Linked DNA regions of Homo sapiens: region 1 is linked to region 2. Evidence: fine-mapped expression QTL. Tissue or cell type: whole blood. Region 2 holds a variant in brackets; the other region holds the start of a gene. All regions are shown on one strand. Distances are from middle to middle.

Region 1 (8,168 bases), 46 kb before region 2:
ATTGCTTGAGGCCAGGAGTTCAAAACCAGCCTGGGTAACAGGACGAAACCCCGTCTCTACTAAAAATACAAAAAATTAGCTGGGCGTGGTGGCGGGTGCCTGTAATCCCAACTATTAGGGAGGCTGAGGCCGGAGAATCGCTTGAACCCGGGAGGCAGAGGTTGCGGTGAGCCGAGATTGCACCACTGCACTCCAGCCTGGGCAACAAGCACGAAACTCCATCTCAAAAAAATAAAAAAATAAAAACAAACAAACTAGAAGCCCAATCCCTCAGCAGCACCCACCCACTCTTGGCTTAGCAGCTGCCTGCAGGTGTGAGCCAGGCGGCCCATTCCCCAGCAATGGCCTTCCTTGCCCTCTTGCTTACCTCACAGTGCAAAACAGCTCATGAAGGAGACTCTTAAGGGCACCACCCAAAGCCTCCCTCTGGCAGCCTGGCCCACCTCCACTCCCAGCTAGACCCGACAAGCCCTTCTCCTTGCCGAGTCATTCTGCTGTGGGCAGCTCTCCTAAAGTTCCAGATGTAGGAGGAGACTGGCTCAGGCACGTTAATTAGAGGGTTGGGGTTATCCCTGTGGCCACCTCCCAAATCTCCTGAGACTTATGTTTTTAGTCTGGGGCTCCTTCCTCATGTCAGCTCCCTAGTGGCAGAGCAGTCTCCCTCGGTGTCTCTCTGGCCACCATGATCAGTGTCACGGACACATCCCAGCATAGCCCCAGTTCTCAACCGCATGGCAGGGACCGTCCAGGAGTTGGTGAGGAACAGGGTGGGAGGGAGGAAGGGAGCAGGAGACCTCACTCTTTCCTTTGAACCTAAAGCTCCAGATAATCCTACACTAGAGGTGCATATGGGGCATGGCTCTGGCTTCTTGAGGGAAACTGGAGAGATGGGGGGCTGGGGAAATGGGGGGCTGTGCTGCCCTAGGAGCAGGACCAACCAGCGTGGAGGCGCTTTGACCTCTAGCTTTGTTTGATTTGGAGCTTGATTTACTGGAGGGGAAGTTTGCTCTAAATCAGTTGTTTGCATCTATTGACCAATAAAATCTAGTTAGTCCTGATGCTTCCTGAAGCAGGGCCCCTGGATTTGGCGTTGCTTTTTTGTGCCTCAGATTTTTTTTTTTTTTGAGGCAAGGTCTGGCTCTATTGCCCAGGCAGGAGTGCAGTGGTGTGGTCTCTACTCAGTGCAACCTCCACCTCCCAGGCTCAAGCGATCCTCCCCCCTCGGCCTCCCGAGTAGCTGGGATTACAGGTGCGTGCCACCATGCTCTGCTAATTTTTCTATTTTTTTTGTAGAGACAGGGTTTTGCCGTGTTGCCCAGGCTGGTCCTGAACTTGGGAGCTCAAATGATTTGCCCTCCTCAGCCTCCAAAGTGCTGTGATTACAGGCATGAGTCACCACACTCGGTCTGTGCCTTAGACTTTAGAGTCGGAAAGCTGGATTTGAATCCTGGCTTCACTACTACCAGCTGTATGGCACTGAACAAGTCACTTGGCCATGTAGAACCTCAGTTCTGCCACGTGTAAAATGGGGATATTATGTGTCTCCTTGGGTTGTCATGGGGTTGGATGAGAAGAATGCGAAGTGCAGGGCCTTGCACAGTTGGGCTCTGTGAGTCTTAGCAATGGCCATGACTGAGGCAGCGTGAGGGAGACTGGGAGAAAACCTCCTCAGTTTCCTTCTCCCAAATCTGTTGTCTTCCCCACTTTCTTTCCTGAAGCCAGGCGACAGGGGGGTGGTCCTGGCCCAGCCTCCTGGCTCCCTGGGGAAGGGCTGCCATTACTGGCAGTGTTAGATAATTTAGTAGAAAGTTGCCCTGCCCACCTCGCAGGCAAGGGACCGCCACCCAAATCCACCCAGACTGGGCCTCGTGTAGGTTTCCAGAAGCCACCCCTTTCTCATTGCCCTACTGCGCTCTGGCCAAGTCCCTGGGGCCCATTGCTGGACAGTGTGAGCGCAGAAAGAGCCAGCCCTACACAGTTTCCGATGTGTCTGATCTTGCCACCTACCGTGAACTGTTTTGTTATTACATCCATTTTCTAGATGAGGGACAGTAACAAGGGCTGAGTGGCCCTGAGCCCTTGGGCTCCACGCGCCCGCTGCCCAGGGCTGCCTCCGTTTGGGCTGGGACATGGGTCTGTGGGCTGGGAACAGGGCCTGCAGGCTGCCCCGCCGCTGGGAATCCGAGCGCTGGGTTTTCTCCTTCTGGGGTGGGGGCAGGGAGGAGACGGCTCAAGTGCAGGAATGAAGGTCCGCTTGCCTGGGGCTGTTTCTGCCCAAGTCCTCATCAGGAATCGTCAGGCCTGAGACAAACCCTCCCTCCTTCAGGAGTGCTCCGTTGGCCCCGGGGAAAGAGAGGTGATGGTCCGGGTTTCTGGGCCTTTGGGGTGCCACGGTGAGATTGGGACTAGAACCCCAGCCTCACTGGAGTGACCCCAGAAACCTTCCAGTCCAACCTCCTCACTTCAACTGAGGTTGGAACAACTGAGACCGGGTGGAAGTGACTTTTACACTCGCACAGTGCAACGGTAGCTACTCGGAATGAGAGACCTGTTCCGGCGCTCCTCCATTGCGCCCCTCGACTCGGCGGGACTTCTTCACCCAGGGCGCCACCGCTCCTCGGCACCGCAGGAAGGCGCAGGCCGGGCCCGGGGGAGTCGGGGAGAGCGGGGTAGGGCCCCGGAGGCTGGGGGAGGAGCCGGGGGAGGAGCGATGAGGCCGGGCCCTTTAAGAGGGCGGGCCGACTCCCCCCCACCCCCCACCCCGGGGCGGCGCAGGCGCAGGCGCAGGCGGGCTCGGGGCGCTCGGCAGGAGGGACGGCGGGCGGGCGCTCACCTGCGGGGGCCGGCGCGGGGCGGGCGCCCGGCGGGCCGACGTTGACGCCCGGAGGCGAGGGCGGGGAGGCGGGCGCGGGACTCGGGGGCGGCCCGGGGCGGGAGGGGAGGGCCGGGGCGGGCGGGCGGTGTGAGCGGGCGCCGAGGGCAGCACCATCTGGAGGGGTGGGAGCGCGCGGCCTCTGGGGGGCAAGCGAGTGCGCTGGGCCGAGCCGGTCGGGGGCCCCCGGCGGGTCGCGCAGGAGGAGCGCGGCGGGCTGAGCCCTGCGCTGCCGGAGCAGCAGCCGCAGCGCGTAGGGGTTCTCAGCTGGGGCCCGCAGCAGCTCCGCGGGCTGAAGCTCGGCGTGGAGGAGCGGGGCGGGGTGGGCCCGGCGGTGCAGGAGGAGGGCGGGGTGGGCCCGGGGCTGCAGGAGCGCGGCGGCCGCGGCCACGAGCCCAGCCGGGGGGTGGTGTGGGGGCCGCCGGACGGCGCGGGCTGGGGGCGCCCGCCGTGGTGGACGGGCTCGGCGGGCTGGCCTGTGGCGCAGGAGGAGGGGCTGGGGCCCCGCGGGCAGCACCAGGAGAAGGGCGGAGGCAGCCCCGCAGTGCAGGAGCGCGGCGAGGCCCGGGCCGGGGTGCAGGAGCGCGGGGAGGGGAGCCCGCGGAGGCTGCTGCAGCAGCCCGAACCGGCGTCCGAGTCCGGGGAAGGCCCCCGCGAGCGCAGGGAGGGGCCGGAAAGTTCCGGCGAACTGGGGGAGCGGCAGTGGGAGAGCGTCGGGCGGGAGGCGGTGGTCCTGGGAGCGGCCCCGGCGCCCCGAAGCCGCCCCGAGCTGGTGGGGAGGGCCCGGCCGGTGGGGCCCCGGGGGCCTGCGGGGGAGGGGCGCCTGGGGGTGCAAGAGGCGAATTGGCTGCCCGGGGTGCAGGAGGGACAGGTGGTGCGGGCTGTCCAGGAAACCTACCTGAACGGGAAGGAGCCCCAGGAGGGAGAGGGACCCGGCGAGGGGCTCAGGACCCGGAGGCGCCGGCGGAGGAGGAGGTGGTGACTGGCAGGCCCGGGCCCCACGGTACCTCCGGGGCTGAAGGGGACGCAGGATGTAGGGGCATGGGGAGTCGGGCGCAGAAGAGTGCGGGGAACCGCTGAGCTCTGGGAGCCACTGCCTGAGGGCAGGCCGCGGCCGGCGGGAACCTCTTCTGCCGTCTCAGCCTGGGCGTCGCTGAAGCTGTGTCTGCGGGGAGGCAGCGGAAGGCGGCAGGTAAGGAAGCCCAGTCCTGTTAGCTGGAGTTGGTGTGCTTGGAAGTGAGAGGCTGCAGGTCCCTGGCGAGAGCGTAGACTCCACACTGCCCTCGTTCTTTTGGCCTTTCATCCCTGGAGGGAGGAAGCAGTGCAGTTTTCAGCGGCAAGGCAGGACCTCTCCCCCGCCAGTACTGTGTATGGTAATTGGAGTGATAGGGCATCTTCTTAGAGTCTAGGCAGCAGGCGGGACGTCTGGGTGGCTGCCAGGTCTGTGCAGAGGGAAGAGAGGGGTAGCCCCAGGGAGGAGCTGCAGGACGGTCCCCCCTCCACCTGCCCCCCGATGGCAGTAGGGGTGCCTCCATGCTATATGCTCTGCATGGTGCAGTCAACACACAAGTCCTCAAAACACGTCCCACAGAAGGGAAGAGGGCAGCGTGGGATTAACAGAACCTTATCTTGTAACCCTGTTGGTCACGTGAGCTGAGATGAGTGTGACAGCTAGTGGCTTGGGTACGGCACGAGCCTGGCCCGCTTCTGCCACGCCGTCCTGTCACAGCTGATTTACCCTGAGGGCCCAGAGCCAAGGATGATTAGTGGGCGGAAGGAGGGAGAGCAACTGGTGAGCCCTCTCGTCTCTGGGTGGGACGACCCAGCGTTAGAGGGGCGGGAGAGGAGGGTGCACTTGCACCCCAGGGCTCTGGGCTGCCTCTGTGGCCCCACCCTGGGGAGGTTTGCAGATGGGCCGCTGTGGTATCATGGGCTCTGCACCTGTCAGGACAGGAGCTCCCAGCCCAGTCTAGAGGTAGGGCTTGTAGGGGCCAAGGGTGGGGGCTGTATTTGGCTTGTTGACTCCCTCGTGGCCTGAGTGCCAGACCTACTCATTCCGCCTCGTGCCCCCAGGGGGCTTGGCGGGCTGCTTGTGGGCCTTACTCTCCTAGAGCTGTTCGCCTCTTACCTGGCACTGTCAGGTGCTTGCTTCCCCTGCCCCTGGGTGGGGATGGGTGCAGGGTTGCTGCTTGCCCAGGGCCTTAGCTAGAGGACCCTCCTCTGCCCCAGCCCGAGGTGTGGCTGTGAGTCAGATGGACCCAGACCCCTGTCCCGAACCAGACTGGGTGCTCTCCTCTGGGGGCAGAGGGAGTGGTGCTGGAGGTAGCAGCTGCTGGAGGAGCCGGTTAGCCCGCTCCTCAGACAAACTCAAACCCGCCTGTCAGCTTCATCCCATGCCTGTCGCGCTGCCACCCAAACACTCATGCACCGGAAGTTCAGCTGCTGTGCCCACGGTGCCTGACGCTTCTGGAATGGCCAGAGTGGCTCTCACTGTCTGGCTTCAGTGGAGAGAACGGTCTGTTTTAAACACATACACACAATCTTCACCTACTTATTTCAGGTCGGCGTTTTTGAACTTGTGGTAGATGAATGGGAGAAAGGCCTTGGCATCACACAGATTGCTTTTGATCTGGTTATATCGCTTACAAGCTGTGTAACTTCCTTGGGCAACATAATGTCTTTAGGTTTCAGTTTCTTGGTGTCTGCGGTGGGCCAGGACTTCCCCTGCAGTGTCGTGAGTAAAGAAACCTCAGGCCCTTTGGAGCCTGGTGCCCACCTCCCCGGAGCCCCGGCAGATGTTAGGGAGGAAGGGTCAGACTGTTCCCTCTGGCCCCTGAGCCCGGGATTAGCCCCCACCTTGTGCTTCGTCTAGAAGATGCAGTGTTTCTTTTTGTTTGTTTTAAATAACAGTTTTATTGAGATATAATGACATATGGTAAACTGAGCATATTTAAAACACACAATTTAATAAGTTGTGGCCTGTGTATATACCCGTGAAACCACCCCCACCTTCAAGATAGTGAACATCCCCCTTATTCCCCTGTCCCCAGAAGTTTTCTTGTGGAACCCCTCCATCCCCCGCTCCTCTGCCATCCCCTACCCCAGGTAACAGGCTGGTCTACTTTCTGTCACTGTGTCTGAGTTTGCAGCATTTACTGTAAACGGAATCGCGTCTTTCATTCAACAGAAGTATTTTGGAGTTTGTCCAGGTGGTTGCGCGTATCAACAGTCATTGTACACGTGTGCCAAAGTCTGTTTATCCATTGACCTGTTGATGGGTTTTCAGAGAAAGCTGCTGTGAACGTGTTTGTTAGTCTTTGTGTGGATGTACACTTTTATTTATCTTAGGTAAATCCCTAGGACCGGAATGGCTGGGTCATGTGGTAGGTACACATTTAACCTTTAAGAAACTGCCAGACTGTTTTCCAAAGTGGTTGTACATTTTATATACTCATCCACTGTGTATGAGAGTTCTGGTTTGTCCATGTCTTTGATATGTCCACATCTCGATGTGGTCAGTCTCTAATTTTAGACACTCTCATGTCTGTAGTGGTATCTCATTACAATTTTAATTTGTATTTCCTTAATGACTCATGTTGTCGGGCATCTTCTCATGTGCTCATTTGCCATACGTATGTCTTTGGTGCTGTGTCTGTTCAGATCGTTTGCCCATTTTTAATTGTGTAGGGTTTTTCGTGTTGAGTTCTGAAGAGTTCTTGATATATTCTGGATATAAGCCTTTTATCAGGTATGTGATTTACAAATCTTTTTTCCAGCTTGTGGCTTTGTATTTTGATCCTCTTAACAATGTCTTCTAAAAAATTCTCATGATCAGTAGTGCAAAATGCTGTGTTTTTGAAGAGAAGTTGTAAATTTTGATTAATTTACTAATTTGTTACTTTGTGGATTGCATTTTTGGTGTCATGTCCAAGAAATCTTTGCCTGACCCAAAGTCCCAACAGTTTTCCCCTGTATTTTCTTGTAGACATTTTATAGTTTTGGGCTTTACATTGAGATCTAGGATTCGTTTGGGGTTAATTTTTGTTACGTGGTGCAAGGTATGAATCAATGTCCAGTTTTTTGCATGTAGAGATCTAATTGATCTAGTAGCACCATTTATTAAAAAGATGTATCTCTCCACTGAATTGCCTTTGAATCTTTGTCAAAAATCAATTGCTGGCTGGGCACGGTGGCTCACTCCTCTAATCCCAGTGCTTTGGGAGGCTGAGGCGGGCGGATCATGAGGTCAGGAGTTCAAGGCCAAGCTGGTGAACGTAGTGGAACCCTGTCTCTACTAAAAATACAAAAAATTAGCCAGGCGTGGTGGCGGGCACCTGTAATCCCAGCTACTCAGGAGGCTGAGTCAGGAGAATCGCATGAACCCGGGAGGCGGAGGTTGCAGTGAGCCAAGATTGCGCCACTGCATTCCAGCCCGGGCGACAGTGTGAGACTCCATCTCAAAAAGAAAAAGAAAAAAATCAATTGTTTGTGTGTGTCTAATTCTGGATTCTGTTTTGTTCCATTGATCTATTTGTCTGTCTTTATCCCAGTATCACACTATCTTGATTACTGTGGGTTTATAAACTATAGTAAGTCTTGAAATCAGGGTAAGATCTCAAACTTGGTTTTGTCTTTTCAAAATTGCTTTAGCTATTCTGGGTTCTTTGCACTTCCATATACATTTTAGAATTAGTTAGTCAATTTCTACAAAAAAGCCTGCTGGGATTTTGATTGGGATTATGATCAATTTGGGGAGAATTGATCGGTTAGCAGTATTGAGCCTTCTGACCATGAACAGTGTATATCTCTGTATTTGTCTAGGTTTTGTTTACTATCTCTCAGCAGTGTTTTGTAGTTTTTGGTATATCAGTCTTTTCCATCTTTTATTGAACATATCCTTAAATAGTACCTATTTTTATGCTATTGTAAATGATACTGGTTTTTCCTGGTAGTATTGGTTTTTTATTTTTAAAAACTTTTAATTGTGGTAAAATATACATAATATACTGCCATTGTAACCATCTGCAGTGGTGGTAAATACATTCATACTGTTGCACAGCCGTCACCAGCATCCATCTCCAGGACTTTTCTCATCTTGTGAAACTGAAACCGCACCTATTAAACAGTAACTTCCCATTCCCTCCTCTCTCAGCCCCTGAGAACCACCATTTTACCTTCTGACTCTATGAATTTGGCTCCTGTAGGTGCCTCATAGAAGTAGAATTTTACAGTGTTTGTGCTTTTGTGCCTGGCTTATTTCACCTCGGCCTAGCGTATTCAAGGTTCATTTACATTG
Region 2 (8,162 bases):
TCGAGACCAGCCTGGCCAACATGGCGAGACCAGGTCTCTACTAAAAATACAAAAATTAACCGGGTATGGTGGTGGGCACCTGTAATCCCACCTGCTGGGGAGGCTGAGGCAGGAGAATCGCTTCAACCTGGGAGGCGGAGGTTGCTGTGAGCTGAGATTGCACCACTGCACTCCATCCTGGGCGACAGAGGGAGACTGTCTCCAAAAAAAAAAATTTTCTCTAAAAAGAAAATATATTGTCTTTCCTGTAAAAGGTTTATATTATAGTTTAACAAAATATATAGACATTTAAAATATATACATATATAAACACACTTTATATATTATGTAAATATATATATGAGAGCGCTGTCAAGTCAAAAAGAAGTGAACTGAGGTCACATGGCTGGAGCCAGCACCATGGCAGGAGGCACTGGCGGGAGGAGGGGCTGACACGGGCCAGGCCCTGGAGATACCTGCTGCCCTTGTCCCAGCAGCGTGGCCCTGTGCACGGTGCGGAGTTTCTCCACATATAAAGCGTGTAGATAATAGTGCTCACCCCGTGGAAGGGACTGGCGCGATGGATGGGGGACATGTCTGTCTTATTGCGCCCAGCACGCCTGGCGCCAGGATGCAGGCACTCCGTGTCACCTGTCTGTCCCATACTGTCTCGGGTGGTTCTTACTGATTTGCAGCTGGGATGCAGGCACTCCCTGTCACCTGTCTGTCCCATACTGTCTCGGGTCGTTCTTAACTGATTTGCACCTGGGACGCAGGCACTCTGTGTCACCTGTCTGTCATTGTCTCGGGTGGTTCTTACTGATTTGCACCTGGGACGCAGGCATTCGCTGTCACCTGTCTGTCACTGTCTCGGGTGGTTCTTACTGATTTGCACCTGGGATGCAGGCACTCCGTGTCACTTGTCTGTCCCAGTCTCGGGTGGTTCTTACTGATTTGCACCTGGGATGCAGGCACTCGGTGTCACCTGTCTGTCCCATCCTGTCTCGGGTCATTCTTAACTGATTTGCACCCGGGACGCAGGCACTCTGTGTCACCTGTCTGTCACTGTCTCGGGTGGTTCTTACTGATTTGCACCCGGGACGCAGGCACTCGCTGTCACCTGTCTGTCACTGTCTCGGGTGGTTCTTACTGATTTGCACCTGGGACGCAGGCACTCGCTGTCACCTGTCTGTCACTGTCTCGGGTGGTTCTTACTGATTTGCATCTGGGACGCAGGCACTCGCTGTCACCTGTCTGTCACTGTCTCGGGTGGTTCTTACTGATTTGCATCTGGGACGCAGGCACTCGCTGTCACCTGTCTGTCACTGTCTCGGGTGGTTCTTACTGATTTGCACCTGGGACGCAGGCACTCCGTGTCACCTGTCTGTCACTGTCTCGGGTGGTTCTTACTGATTTGCACCCGGGACGCAGGCACTCGCTGTCACCTGTCTGTCGCTGTCTCGGGTGGTTCTTACTGATTTGCATCTGGGATGCAGGCACTCCGTGTCACCTGTCTGTCGCTGTCTCGGGTGGTTCTTACTGATTTGCACCCGGGACGCAGGCACTTGCTGTCACCTGTCTGTCACTGTCTCGGGTGTTTCTTACTGATTTGCACCTGGGACGCAGGCACTCCGTGTCACCTGTCTGTCACTGTCTCGGGTGGTTCTTACTGATTTGCACCTGGGACGCAGGCACTCGCTGTCACCTGTCTGTCACTGTCTCGGGTGGTTCTTACTGATTTGCATCTGGGACGCAGGCACTCGCTGTCACCTGTCTGTCACTGTCTCAGGTGGTTCTTACTGATTTGCATCTGGGATGCAGGCACTCCGTGTCACCTGTCTGTCACTGTCTCGGGTGGTTCTTACTGATTTGCATCTAGGATGCAGGCACTCCGTGTCACCTGTCTGTCGCTGTCTGGGGTGGTTCTTACTGATTTGCAGCTGGGATGCAGGCACTCCGTGTCACCTGTCTGTCGCTGTCTCGGGTGGTTCTTACTGATTTGCATCCACATAGGCTTTGGGCTCTATCCCACCTGTCGTCTTCGGATTCTCTAATACGCAGGAGTGCTCTTCTGTTAGTTTACTCATAGTTTATTAAAGTACAGAGAAAAGACATCCAGGATGATAAATTTTACAGTCCTTGCCGGGGACTGCCAGCTTCCAGTGGTGTTGCCTGGCACCAGTGTGACCCCCGGTGCCTGCCCCGCTGAACCTTCTGTAAACTGTTTAACTGTGCTGGTGGTTTCCCATTCTCTAGGCGCTGAGATGCGTCTGGAGAGCCAGAGGGCCTGCCTGAAGGAATCACCTGAGCCTGTCCGTCCACCAGGAGTGGGGAGATGCCCCCATCCAGTCCTGGAGGACCCGCTGCTCCTGCTGCTCCCGGGGATGGAGCAAGGCCAAGGCTGCGGGAGGCTGGGAGCCCTGCCCTGCCCATCCCTCCTGCACCAGCGCTGTCCCTGCACACTTTGGTTCAGTCCCGGTGCCCCTGCCAAGATGTGGAAGGGGCCGGGTGAAGACAGGCTTGAGGGCTGCCCCAGCAGGCTCTGGGTATGACCTGCCTCTGGCCCTGGTCCTGGGCGGGGCCTGTGGGTGGAGTAGTACCCCCAGGCCCTGCCCTGGGTGACAGACTGGGAGGAAACCAGGCTGGACCTGGGCAGGCGGGATGTGTTGGCCACAGGGAGAGGCGGACCGGCACCCGGTGGGACCTCCTAGGACTGGGCCTTCTTCCAGGGGGCCCCTGGCAGCAGCTGGGGTGTCGGGCAGAATGTGACTTGTGGCCTTACCATGGACTTGAATGGGACTTGGCTGGCCTCAGGATCTTGTGCCTGGAAATAGCCTGAGGTGGCTCAGGAAGCGGAGAAAGGGTGCCAGACCATTCTCTGGCGGGGACCAGGGCCCAAGGCCCCAGGGCTGGAAGGAGACCAAGGGGCAGCCGCCCTGGAGGGACATCAGTGCTTCCTCTTCCACCCAATTCCCCCACGCGGTTCCATGTTTTCCCACCAGCCTGTTGGCGAAGTTGCTGCTCCGGCATTCAGTACCTGCTTCTTCCAGAGAAATAAAGTTAGTTTCTATTTTATGTTACTTACTTGTGCCTGCCTGTTTCTTTGCCTGTTAGTCAGCAAGCTCCAGGCCCCAAGCGAGGCTCCCCAGGCCACCAGCATCTGCTCCGGGCAGCAGGCCTTGTAGCACCACCTGGAGGCAGCGGGAGGGCGCGCAGGCCTGGACACCGGGAGGCCTCTTCCCTTACACGGCCGGCAGCGGGGCCAGAGTCCCCGCCGGTCTGGTCAGTGACTTTCACACTGCCTGGATTTCACTTGCCGCGTGGACTTCTGTAAGGCAGGATATATACTGCAGGAGAGAGTACAGCAACCCAGTTAAATAGAACCAAGCCAGAAATGTTAGCAACAAGGAACCCTTCAATATGTTAGGTATTTTAATTGCTTTTCTGAATAACTCATGTTCATACGGTTCAAAATTGAAAAGGCACTGAGGAGTGTACAGTGAAATGACTGGGTATCACCCACCGCGGCCGTCCACTTCCCCAG[T/C]GCAGAGACGCCTGTATCACCAGTTTCTTGTGTAGTGCTTGTTTTTGTTTTTACTTAATAATATTTTGAAGAATTCCATAGCAATACTGAACGTGCTTCCCCATTCTTTTTTTTTTTTTTTTTTTTGAGACAGTTTTGCTCTTGTTGCCCAGGCTGGAGTACAGTGGTGCGATCTCTGCTCACTGCAACCTCTGCCTCCCAGGTTCAAGCAATTCTCCTGCCTCAGCCTCTGAGTAGCTGGGATTACAGGCACGTGCCACCACACCCAGCCAATTTTTGTATTTTTAGTAGAGATGGGGTTTCTCCATGTTGGCCAGGCTGGTCTCAAACTCTTGACCTCAGGTGATCCGCCTGCCTCAGCCTCCCGAAGTGCTAGGATTATAGGCATGAGCCACCGCGCCCGGCTGGGCTTCCCCATTCTTTCGGGTTGCGTGGATGCACGGGTGTACCATAACCTACTTAACTGGGTTCCTTTTGATGAAGGGCAATTTTAGTTGCATCCAGTCCTTCGCAATTACAACCATTGCCTCAGTAAATTGTGTATGTGGGCTGTTTTTCACTCGCACGTCAATCTGAAGATGAGTTCCCAGCAGTGGGACTGCTAGGTCAAAGGGCGTGTGCCATGGCGGTGGGTGGTGCTGAACCTGCTCTCAGCGGAGGGACATTCTCAGTTGTCACACCACCTGTGCAAGGGAGCTTTCCATGTGTTAAGGAGTTTTCTGATCTTTGGCAGACTGACTGGTAGAAAATAGTGTTTCTATAGTTTTAATATGCATTTCTCTTACGAATAAACTCAAAAATAAGTTGAGCCATTTGTATTTCCTTTTTAATGAGTTGCCTATTAATATCCTTGGCCCATTACAAAATGTTAGATTATTCATCGGTTTCTTACTGCTTTCCAGGAAATTACTGGATCAATCAAGGAAACTAGCTCTTTGAGCTTCACATATGATCATGTGAACTTTAGGAAAAGAGGTAAATCATAAGAAAGTAAGCTTAATGACTCGGGTTTATTGAAAACAAAACAGAGGCCATTCAGGGTGAGTCTGGGCCACGTGTGTGTCTGGCTGTAGGCTGGCCTTCGTGGGTAGGCCCCGAGGCTCAGAAGTTCTGAGGCCTGGGAGCTTTGCATATGCCGTTTGCAAAGGCAGGAATTCTATTATTTTAACTGTGATTTAAAATACCTAGTCAAATATATCACAAAAGGGAACAAGTTTTTTTTTTTTTTTTTTTTTTTGAGACGGCATCTTGCTCTGTTGCCCAGGCTAGAGTGCAGTGGTGCAATCTCGGCTCACTGCAACCTCTGCCTCCTGGGTTCAAGTGATTCTCCTGCCTCCGCCACCTGAGTAGCTGGGACCACAGGCGCACACCACCACACCCGACTAATTTTTGGATTTTTAATTTTTGGATTTTTAGTAGAGATGGGGTTTCACCATACTGGTCAGCCTGGTCTTGAACTCCTGACCTCATGATCCGCCCGCCTCGGCCTCCCAAAGTGCTGGGATTACAGGCGTGAGCCACCGCATCCAGCCAGAACAAGTTCATATTAAGTGAGTGTTGAGCATTGCTGTTAGACCTGGATTTCATTCCTAGCTCTGTTTCGTCTTAGAAATGTTATTTCACCTTTCTGAGTCTGTAAACTGATGGAGTAATTCCTGCCTTATAGAAGGGTTGTGAGGACTGACTGAGGTTGTGAAGGTGAAACATTTTGCTTAGAGTATGGGCCACAGTCAGTTCCCACCAAACAGTAGTTATTATAAATGTTATTTCCCCGTGTTCCTGCCTGTTTCTATTAATCAATAGCTCACATTATACACTGACCACACTCTGCGCATAGAATTGTGTTTTACTTTTCTCATTTTCCTTCTGTTTCAGAAAGTTTATTCTTTTGCTCACAATTATCCTATTTATAGATCATAGGTGTTTTTACTTCATTTTAAAAAACACATCAATTTTTTGTAAGCAATCCAGATGTGTGTATGCTTTACAAGCATTTAAAAATCTGTTTCAGAGCCAACACATCCAGAAAGATTTTTGCAGGGGGCAGAGGATGTCAAAGCAGCTCGAGGTTTCTCAGGGGAGCAGGGAACCCAGTGTACTTTTCCTGCCAGACACACAGTTCCCTAAACCCTGGGTTTCCTGCTATGTTTTTCTTGCTTCTAATCGGCCTGCCAGCTTTTCCAGCATCTCCTGGGTTTACTGAAAAGATCTTAAGTTGGGAAGTTGAAACGCTGACCCAGGTGTGTTTGCCAACAGGCAGAATCAACAACAGGCAGAATCAACAACAGGGAGAATCAACAACGGAGAATCAACAACAGGGAGAATCGACAACAGGGAGAATCAACAACAGGCAGAATCAACAACAGGCAGAATCAACAACAGGGAGAATCAACTCAGTGGGGAGGTGTCGGGTGCTTTTTGTGTGTGGAGCCCTGATGAGGAAACACAAGCCAAGTAGAAACAGTCCGTGCCCCAGATGGGTCCACAGCCTTTGGGGGACTGTGACAGCATCACGGCAGGACGGGTGCTCTGTAATCGTTACGCACCAGGTGTCTTGGGAGCAGAGGAGGTGGCTCCCCACAAGGTCACGTTGTGCTGATGTGATGGGTGAGAACGGTGAACGCCAGGTAGGGACGAAAGCGCTGCAGGTGGAGGGCCCTGCAGCCGAGGCGGCGGGCACGAGCCGGCTTGTCCCAGGCACTGAAGTTGGCAAGGCCAGAGCGCATCCTTTTGTTGTTTTGGGGGTGGGTTAGAGGCGGCTCTCGTGATCCTGGCGCGTGAGGCAGGCCTGGATCATGAGGCTGCTGGTGTGGAATGCTGAGTTCTTTTGACTTTGTAGACAAAGGAAGACATCAGGAATAGCCAGAGGGGTAGTGGGGTTGCATCTGGGTGCTCAGGATGGGGCTGCTTGAAAGCGGCTGGCGGCTCCACTGCAGCCACAAAAGGAGGAAAGGCCTAGTGCGTCTCTCCCTGCGGACAAAAGGTTTCCTTAATTGGAAGCAAGTTCATTTGTACAGAAACTGCATTTGGAGGTTGGAGGAACCTCCAACTGCTGGAGTCTTTGTCGAGAGCAAGGGTTCTTGAAGGCCAGTCCAGGGCCGCTGCCGGTCTAGAGTTAAGTTTTCAGCCACCTGAGGTGAAATGATAAGAACTGCAGGACCGAGCTTTTCTTAAAATGAAAGAGATTCCGTTTCAAGGACGGTCTTTATTTGGATGTGTCTTCCTGAGTTCTTGGTACTGAAATGGCTGTTGTTGCGTAGTGGTGGTGGTGGTGTTAGGCGGTAACTGTGTCCCCCGTGCCCTGTCAGGATGCCCCTCACCAATGACTGCTATTTTAATGATCCCCGAAGTCCATCTTGAGGACCCGGGGCCAGAGAGCTTTCGTGTTAGGCAGCACCACCTGTTGGCAAAATGTGGCATTGCAGGCCCTCTGGCTAAATTTCAGAGTGGGAGGGATGAGATTGTGTATTCATTGCCCAATAAATCAATTAATTCCAAATCTGCTGGCTCAAGCCCATGGGTGCTTAAAGGGAGTCAGCCCAGGGAAGCTGGGAGGGGAAGGAACTGGGTCGCCCGCCATCTGGAGCCAAACGGGGACCAGCCAGTATCTAAGGTCAGGAAAGGAGACGGGTGGAGGGCTCTGAAAAACACCACGCCTGCACCTGGGCCAGAAACCTGCGGCTCTGGGCTAGCTGGAGGGAAGCTGAGGGCTGGGAGAGCGGGCAGTCACTCTCCAGCAGAAGTCCTCGCATCACGTCACTCCATTTGGGAAGCCTCAGTTCCACTGTATTAAAAAAAAATGTTTTTATGATTGTTATACATGCTCTTTGTTGACTTGGACCATTCAGAAGAGCGCAGTGAGAAAATTAAAGACCCAGAAAGCCACTTAAAATTTTGATATATTCCACTTTTTTTTGTGCACATATATGTGTATTACGGTTTTATAAAATAAGGTCATCCAGCATGCAGGGTTTCCTTAAGGTTTATTTTTATCTTTATTTTATTTGGTTTTTTGTTTGAATCAAGGTCACTCTCTGTCACCCAGGATGAGTGCCGTGGCATGATCATGGTTCAGGGTGGCCTGGAATTCCTGGACTCAAGCGATCGTCCCACTTAAGCCTCCCAAGCAGCTGGGGTGACCGGCGTGCCCCACCACACCTGGCTAATTTTTTTATTTTTTTATTTTTAGTAGAGACGAGGTCTCACTATGTTGCCCAGGCTGGTCTCGAATTTCTGGACTCAAACAATCCTCCCGCCTCAGCCTCCCAAAGTGCGGGGATTATAGGCATGAGCCACTGTGCCTGGCCAGTTTTCTGTATCTTTAAATTCATCTTCTCAAAGAATATTTAAACACTACCTAGTTTTTATTCTGTGGATAAACTCCAGTTAACACATTTTGTTAATGTTTTTTATCTTGTAACTGTTCATTTATTTAGAGACAAGGTGTCCCTCTGTCTCCCAGGCTGGAGTGCAGTGGCTCCAGCTCAGCTCGGCTCACCGTACCTTGATCCTCCAGGCCCAAGGGATCCTCCCACCTCAGCCTCCCAAGCTGTGAGAACTACAGGCAGGCGCCACTATACCCACATAGTTTTGTTCTTTTTTTTCTTTTTTCTGTAGAGATGAGATCTCACTATGATGC

What was found. PIP is the estimated chance that this variant, and not a neighbour inherited with it, causes the effect.
Region 1: TNK2 starts here. The variant in region 2 is fine-mapped to the expression of TNK2 in whole blood (TOPMed, PIP above 0.99).

The regions. Positions count from the first base shown.
Region 1 is chr3:195,904,381-195,912,548 of GRCh38, reverse strand. TNK2 (tyrosine kinase non receptor 2) reads left to right here and starts at 3,998. Exons shown (of 16, transcript NM_001382273.1): 1 at 3,998-4,064. It overlaps TNK2-AS1 (TNK2 antisense RNA 1), which reads right to left and starts at 4,473. Exons shown (of 2, transcript NR_145450.1): 1 at 3,771-4,473; 2 at 1-2,684. RefSeq lists enhancers at 2,415-2,464, 5,455-5,684, 5,735-5,784 and silencers at 2,595-3,244, 3,295-3,484, 3,535-3,784.
Region 2 is chr3:195,858,261-195,866,422 of GRCh38, reverse strand. It overlaps TNK2 (tyrosine kinase non receptor 2), which reads left to right. Exons shown (of 16, transcript NM_001382273.1): 16 at 2,236-3,059. The coding sequence ends at 2,242. It overlaps LINC01983 (long intergenic non-protein coding RNA 1983), which reads left to right and starts at 6,019. Exons shown (of 2, transcript NR_134939.1): 1 at 6,019-6,150. RefSeq lists enhancers at 5,585-6,107, 6,108-6,632. The variant T/C (reference allele first, on the strand shown) is at 3,524.